2 linked regions of the Homo sapiens genome follow. The protein of the gene in region 2 interacts with the protein of the main gene of each other region in a pairwise test. Each region holds a gene or a part of one and is shown on either strand. Other genes may lie near its edges.

What was found.
Region 1: the proteins of TRAPPC6B (region 2) and BMP2K interact in a two-hybrid assay, tested with the Homo sapiens proteins (one large-scale study listed by IntAct).

Annotation. Positions count from the first base shown.
Region 1 is NC_000004.12:78,870,350-78,873,849, reverse strand, and holds part of BMP2K (BMP-2-inducible protein kinase), read right to left. Parts: intron 3,068-3,500; coding exon 2,790-3,067; intron 2,001-2,789; coding exon 1,902-2,000; intron 1,237-1,901; coding exon 1,052-1,236; intron 1-1,051. UniProt on the Homo sapiens protein: May be involved in osteoblast differentiation.
Region 2 is NC_000014.9:39,160,334-39,163,833, reverse strand, and holds part of TRAPPC6B (trafficking protein particle complex subunit 6B), read left to right. Parts: intron 1-3,500. UniProt on the Homo sapiens protein: Component of a transport protein particle (TRAPP) complex that may function in specific stages of inter-organelle traffic.

The DNA.
Region 1 (3,500 bases), on a different chromosome or scaffold from region 2:
TAGACAAAATTGTCCTAATTCATCCACCCCAATTCTTACTTTAGAAAAGTAGTTCAAGAAATCCATTCGTTTCTGTCTCCCTCTCTACCATACCCGCCCCACCATCTGTCTCTTGCACATGTGCACACACATGCATGCATGCATACACACACACACACACACACACACACACACACACACACACACACACAGAGGTTGGGAGGCATTCTATAGCAAACTGCATACTTTAGCTCTCTTTTGAGATGCAGTGTACAAGTATGCTACTGATGCTGCTGTTTCTCCTGCTCAACTCTGAGCCAAAGCTTATAGACACCTTTTCTCAGCTAATGTTTCAAATCCTTAAACAGCATTGTATGAGAACTTCAGTGTTCATGTAACAGAAGTCTAACAGCTCCTACCTCCTAGGTATCTAAAAACATTAGGAGGCATTGATGATGATTCTTAGTTACAAGATGCTAAAGCACGTGCCATTTTGTATAAGTTTAAGAAATTTTGTACCAAAGTTATTTAATTTATAACGCTACTAACCAATATGTCTCAATAGCCAAAATATACTATTACCAACTATGTTACGGTAACAGTATGTATACTATATATCATCTTAAAATACATATATGTAAAAATGTTTATACCTATTTAAATTAAATTATACAACCTTTATGAGTAAACAGTAAAATTAATCAAAGGTAATAACATGTAAATAGAGAAAGTCTACAAGGATTTTTTTTTAACTGCTGAAGTCACTTGTTAGGGTGTTGTTTATACTTACATTACCAAAAATGCCTTTACATACAAGCCAATAATATCCTTAGCCCTAAATGCTGTTAGATGTTGCTACACCTTACCTACAAATAGCAGTTAGCAGAATTAACTGAGGAAACGGAAGGATGGGGATGCCAAGGGACCAGAAGACAGGACTAGGAAGAGAGAATGGGTGGCTCTACAGAAAGATAAATTCTAAACTAATTTAAGAGAACTTAATGACCGACCATTCAACGATGACTTCCACTTCCACAATAATTTCCTTTGCTTTCACTGGAAAAATACTTGCCTATTGGCACTATAGGAGGAGTCCATTATGGTTCCAACCTGAGCTGGAAGTGATGAAGTGTAGGAAACTAAGGCTGGTGAGAACTCTTGAGGGGAGGTAAGATATTCAGGTGATGCCTGTTGTTGAGACGGCTGATGTTGAGCTAGCATCTGCTGTTGAAAGAAAGCCTGCTGATACTGCGGCATCTGAAAAAAGAAATGATATTATACAAAACAATGCTCCAGTCCTAAAGCACTGTCAGCACTGCATCTATTTACTATGTTCCTTCCTTTCACATTGGTGACAAAATCAGAAACGTAAAAAACAATCATCTACAGAAGCAGCTCTATTACTAGAAAACTACAGCAAGATGAAATAAATCTTTTTAAAAAGTTGTAAAGGTAGGCTCACTTGGCCAGAATCAAAAATCCTCTTTTAAGTATTTTAAGAAAAAGAGTAGCTTAAAGTCACTAATATAGTGGTTGCTGTTAAAAAAAAAAAAAAAAAAAAAAAAAAGGTCAAATTATTCTCTGAAGAAAATATACTCTCCCTTTGGGTTTCATTTTTTTACTCAATAGATATGTGCTGAATGAAAGAGACATGTGACGAAAGACTATAGGTAAGACATCATTTCCCTTATATAATGACATAAGAGAAGTACGTTATCGGTCAATTACTATGTGCCATATTCAGGTGCCATAGTTCAGTGCAATTTAAAGCTGCTTGAGAATATATGACTGGCTTTGATAAAATACATGTCAATTAACTTACTTGATTTTGAATTACTAAATTCTGAATAATATGATTCATACTGTGAATTCCAACACCATAATGTATACTCAGAGAAATCTCTAGAAATTATTTAAGTTACCATTGTAGGATACTGTGATGCAGAAGGTTGTGGTTGATATACCGAATGCATTAAAAATTGTTGTTGAAGCATCTGTTGCTGCTGTGTTGCATGTTGATACTACAACGAGAAAATCAAATTAATAAATGTTATGCCTTTTTTGTGTCAGAGCCCTTTTTTAAAGTATTGATCTTACCATAATGATTTGAGAAATCAGTAGTCCAAACATCAATACAAAATAGCTATACTCTAAATTACTATAATTTATTAATAAATATGCTTATCAGAACTGGTTTCAAAATTATCAACAATTAGATTCAATTAAAACCATTTTTAGCACAATTTAAGGATGTTTAGAAGAAAGCTACCAAAACACATTTACTACCTTTTCCTAGAAGATAAAGACACCTGAGTGACTTCTAACCAAGCCCCATTACACTAAATCTCCCCTTCAGTGGTGTCTTCTGGGCATCCCATGGTACCACCTACTTACTACCCTCCACTCTGGATCTATCAACCAAAACCAGGAGGGTGACAAAAATCTAAGACAATGTTACTTCTGAAAAGCCTAATATCACCTTTCCAACAATAGCATTATTAGTCTGTGAACTCAAAACGTAACCTCAGATAATATTCATTATAAACTGCAGTGCTTATTTGTGAATACTAAATGTTTCAGATGAACATTCTTTTCTTCATAAGGCCACAATGCAACCTATTTTACAGTATTCTTAAGTATTTCACTGATTGCAAATTAAATACGTATTCTTTCATAATTAGAAAATTGGGGAAAGTGTTTACTCAAATCTAGAGTTCAAGGTGCCCATGATACAAAAAGGAATTCACTGATATTCAATTTGCTGCATCAATTTCACACTACTTCCATATCTAAAGAAACAAAAAAATTACCTGCTGCATATAAGCATCTTGAAGTAGGTGGTGGTGGTGGTGGTGGTGGTGCTGCTGCTGCTGCTGCTGCTGCTGCTGTTGCTGTTGCTGCTGCTGCTGTTGCTGTTGCTGCTGCTGCTGCTGCTGCTGCTGGTGAGGATGACGATGCTGTAAATGGAGTTGCTGTAATCTCCAATCTCCCTGCTGTAGTTGCTGGAGTACTCTATGCTGCTGTGGCGGCTGCTGAGGAGGTCCCTGACCCAATAAAATTTCAGGGCCATTTCCAGGTCTTAGTGCCCCTAAAGACAGGTCCAAACACTTACATTAACATACTAATGATTTCAATTAAAAAGCTGGATTTCAACATGCTCATTTCAATAATAATTTAACTAAGGCATTTATATCCTTATTTATAACACAAAAACTTCCATATGCATAGAGTTTATAGGGATTTACTTTAATTGTAAGTACCGAAGAAGCTTAATTTTGTCGTCTACAACTCTGAACAAGTCAACATCTTAGAAACACTTCATGTTTCATACTTCGGCTCTCCATGAACACAACATCCATGTTAGTTTGTTCTACACTGCTCAACAATATCATGTACTATCATGAGTATGTATTAGTACCAATATAATTCTCTGTCTAGAATGCCACTTTCCACCTAGTGAAATTCTTATTCTTTAAAGTTTAGCTCAAACCTCTCTTCCTTATTCCTTCATCTAGCACTTC
Region 2 (3,500 bases):
GGTCCTGTGGGACCACTAGATGTCTATGCCCAATAAAGTCTGTACTAGAAACGCAGATTTAATAGTCACAGCACCATAAGCAGAGTGCATGGTTCCTTAGAAGAAAGTTTAGCAAATAATAAGCCCTATGGTTTCCTTAGTGGGAGACAAACAGCCTTCAGAATATACAAAAATCCCTGCCTTTTTGGAGCTTTATTTTAGCAGAGAGGGGAACAAGGGGCACATGGGCAATATAAAATAGTAAAATGTATGGTATATTAAATGGTGAAAGAAGTTCTGTGGAGACAGATTAAGCAAGGAAGTGGGACTGAGTATCAAAATCAATTTTTAGAAGGTTTGTTAAAGCTGATTAGCGGCCCCATACCCAGAGTTTCTGATTAAGTAAATTGGGAGTGGGACTAGAGAATTTGCAAGTTCCCATGTGATGCTGATGTTGCTGGTCTTTTTTTTTTTTTTTTTTCTGGTGATGAAGTCTCGCCCTGTCACCCAGACTGGAGTGCAGTGGCATGATCTCGGCTCGCTGCAATCTCTGCCTCCTGGGTTCAAGCGTTTCTCCTGCCTCAGCCTCTTGAGTAGCTGGGACTACAGGTATGTGCCACCATGCCCGGCTAATTTTTTGTATTTTTAGTAGAGATGAGGTTTCACTGTGTTAGCCAGGATGATCTCGATCTCCTGACTTCGTGATCCGCCCACCTCAGCCTTCCAAATGCTGGGATTACAGATGTGAGCCACCACACCCAGCCAACACATTTTTAAAATCACTAGGATAGAGAGTTGCCAAAGGGGTATGATGTTGCACTTTTAAAGAAGATGGTTAAAATGGGCCTAAGATGGTGACATGAGAGTAGACTCAAAGGAAGTGAGGGAGTTGGTTGTGTGACTATCTGGAGGAAGAGTTGATGCAAAAGCCCCTGGAATGTGCCTGGCATGTTTAAGGGACGGGGCAGAGTGCATCTGCAGAAGGTTGAAGCCAGAGAGGTATGGGGTCTGGATTGTAGAGGACAGTCCATCAGTCATCCATAGGATTTGGATGTGTTCAGCATAGAGGTACTATTTCAAGCCTTAAGATTGAATGAGATTGTCAAAGAAAGAGCAAAGCAATCTCATGATTTAAGGCAAAGTGTGATAATCAGCTAAGACACTGAGAACTGGGAAGCCTGGATGATTCTGAGACATTTTGAAGCAAGGAACAATAGAACTTAGAGCAGAAAGCAAATGACTCAGGGAAAAACATCAAAGGTGATACCAGGTTTTATAACCTAGGAGAGAAGAATGATTGAAATTGGGATAAAAGGGAGACGAGGAGTAATTAGGAAGAGGATTTGATTTCTGAAAATCAATTATAAGCAGTAGTTCCCTGTTTATCCTGTTGCCTTGTGCCAGGTGCAGTGGCTCACACCTGTAGTCCCACAGCTTTGGGAGGCCAAGCCAGGAGGATATCTTGAGGTCAGGACTTTGAGACCAGCCTGGGTAACAGAGTGAGATCCCATCTCTTAAAAAAAAAAAAAATAGCCAGGCATGGTGATGTGCCTGTAGTCCTAGCTACTTGGGAGACTGAGGTGGGAGGATTGCTTGAACCCAGGAATTTAAAGCTTCAATGAACCATGATCTCGCCAGTGCACTGCAGCCTGGGCGACAGAGCAAGACTTGTCAAATAAATAAGTAAATAGCAGTTTGGTCTTTTGTTGGAGGAACGTCTATTCTTAGCTTGGACACTGCGGTTTTTCCTTGGGCAGCAGAAGCAATGTGGCGATTGAAGAAGTGACCTAAAACTTTGATGTTAGGTAGAAGCAGATGGCCCAAGCCAAGACAAGTGCTTGTAAATCCACTGGTGGGAGCCCCTCCTCCTAACAGCAGGTTATTAACGCTGCCAGAAAAAAAGTGTCCCCTCTACCGGTCTGGTGAAGAAACCTCATCGCTACGGGCCTGGGACTGTGGCACTTCTAGAGATTCTCGTTACCAGAAATTGACCTAGCTTCTCATCTGGAAGCTGCCTTTCTAGAGGTTGGTGAGAGAGATCACCCAGGATTTCAAAACCAACTTTAGGTTTCAGAGCACAGTCATTGGGGTGCTGCAGGAGGCTAGTGAAGTGTACCTGGAGGCTAGTGAAGTGTACCTGGTGGGTTGGTTTGAAGATGCTAATTTGTGTGCCATCTACGGTAAGAGAGTTGGCTCTCATGCCCAAAGACATCCAGTTGGCTCGCCAGACACGGAGTGAGCGAGCTTAAGTGAAGGCAGATTTTAAGGCATTTTATATGAATTCTGTAAAATACTTTGGTTTAATTTGTGACTTTTTGGGGAGAAATTATTTATAATATGTTGCATTTGTGCTTAAGTCATTCCGTCTTTTGGGATGAATGTGAAAAGTGACTGTTCATAGACCTCAGTGACGTAAGCACTGTTGCTCAGGAGTGACAAGTTGCTAATACGCAGAAGGGATGGGTGACATTTTTTCATTCTCATGACGCATGTTTCTGTAAGTTAATGACTTGTTAGGTAGCTATTAAGGAACTAGAGTTGATAAATAAATGTGTATAGGTTCCTTTTGCAATATAACTGGTTATTACTTGATCCAAGTGTTTAACATTTGGAGCTAAGTCTGACCATACATTACTGTGATAGAATGTGGGCCTTTTCAAGGGTGAAGATACAAGCCTTAACCACAGTATAACTTGCAGTTTCCTTAAACAAACAAAGAAATAAAAACCTAGCATGGAGTACATTATGTGCATTTATAATAGCTATTTTAAATATTGTAGTGTCAACATTCAAAAATTAATTCTTTTACATTCGCAAATGGTGGGGAGTCTTGTCATTAAGGTGTGTATAACTTAGAATCCACTTGGTTTTCTCCTAACTGGACTGCATTTGTTTTCATAGTAGTAAAATGTTATGTGTATTACACCTTGCATAAGTCCTCATTCTACTACGTGTTAACTAACCCTCTAGATGATAATGCAGATGCTAACTGTGGGATTTTATTTATAAGAACTCTAGAATAAATACCAGTTATTCCTACCAACATCGGCTGTTACTAATATTCTGAAGTAGTTAGTGCAACTTTTCATTGTGTTGTGGTTGGTCTCCTAAGTAGGTTGGATTTTTCTCCTCTTCTAAGAGAAAACAATAGTGAAATTATTTTCTTTCTCTTTTCTCTCTGTTTCTGTCTCTTTCTCTCTCTCTTTCTCCCTTCCCTTCCCTTCCCTCCCCTCCCCTCCCCTCTTCTTTTCTTTTCTTTCTCTTCTCTTCTCTTTTCTTTCTTTCATGGGGTCCCTTGCTCAACCTGTTGCCCAGGCTGGAGTGCAATGACATGATCATGGCTCAGTGCAGCCTCAACTTCCTGGACTCAAGCAATCCACCTGCATCAGCCTCCAAAATGGCACATGCTACCATGCCCAGCTATTTTATTTTTACTTTTAGTACAGATGTGGTCTTGCTATGTTGCCCAGGCTGGTCTTGAGCCATTGAGCTCAAGTGATCCTCCTGCTTTGGCCTCCTAA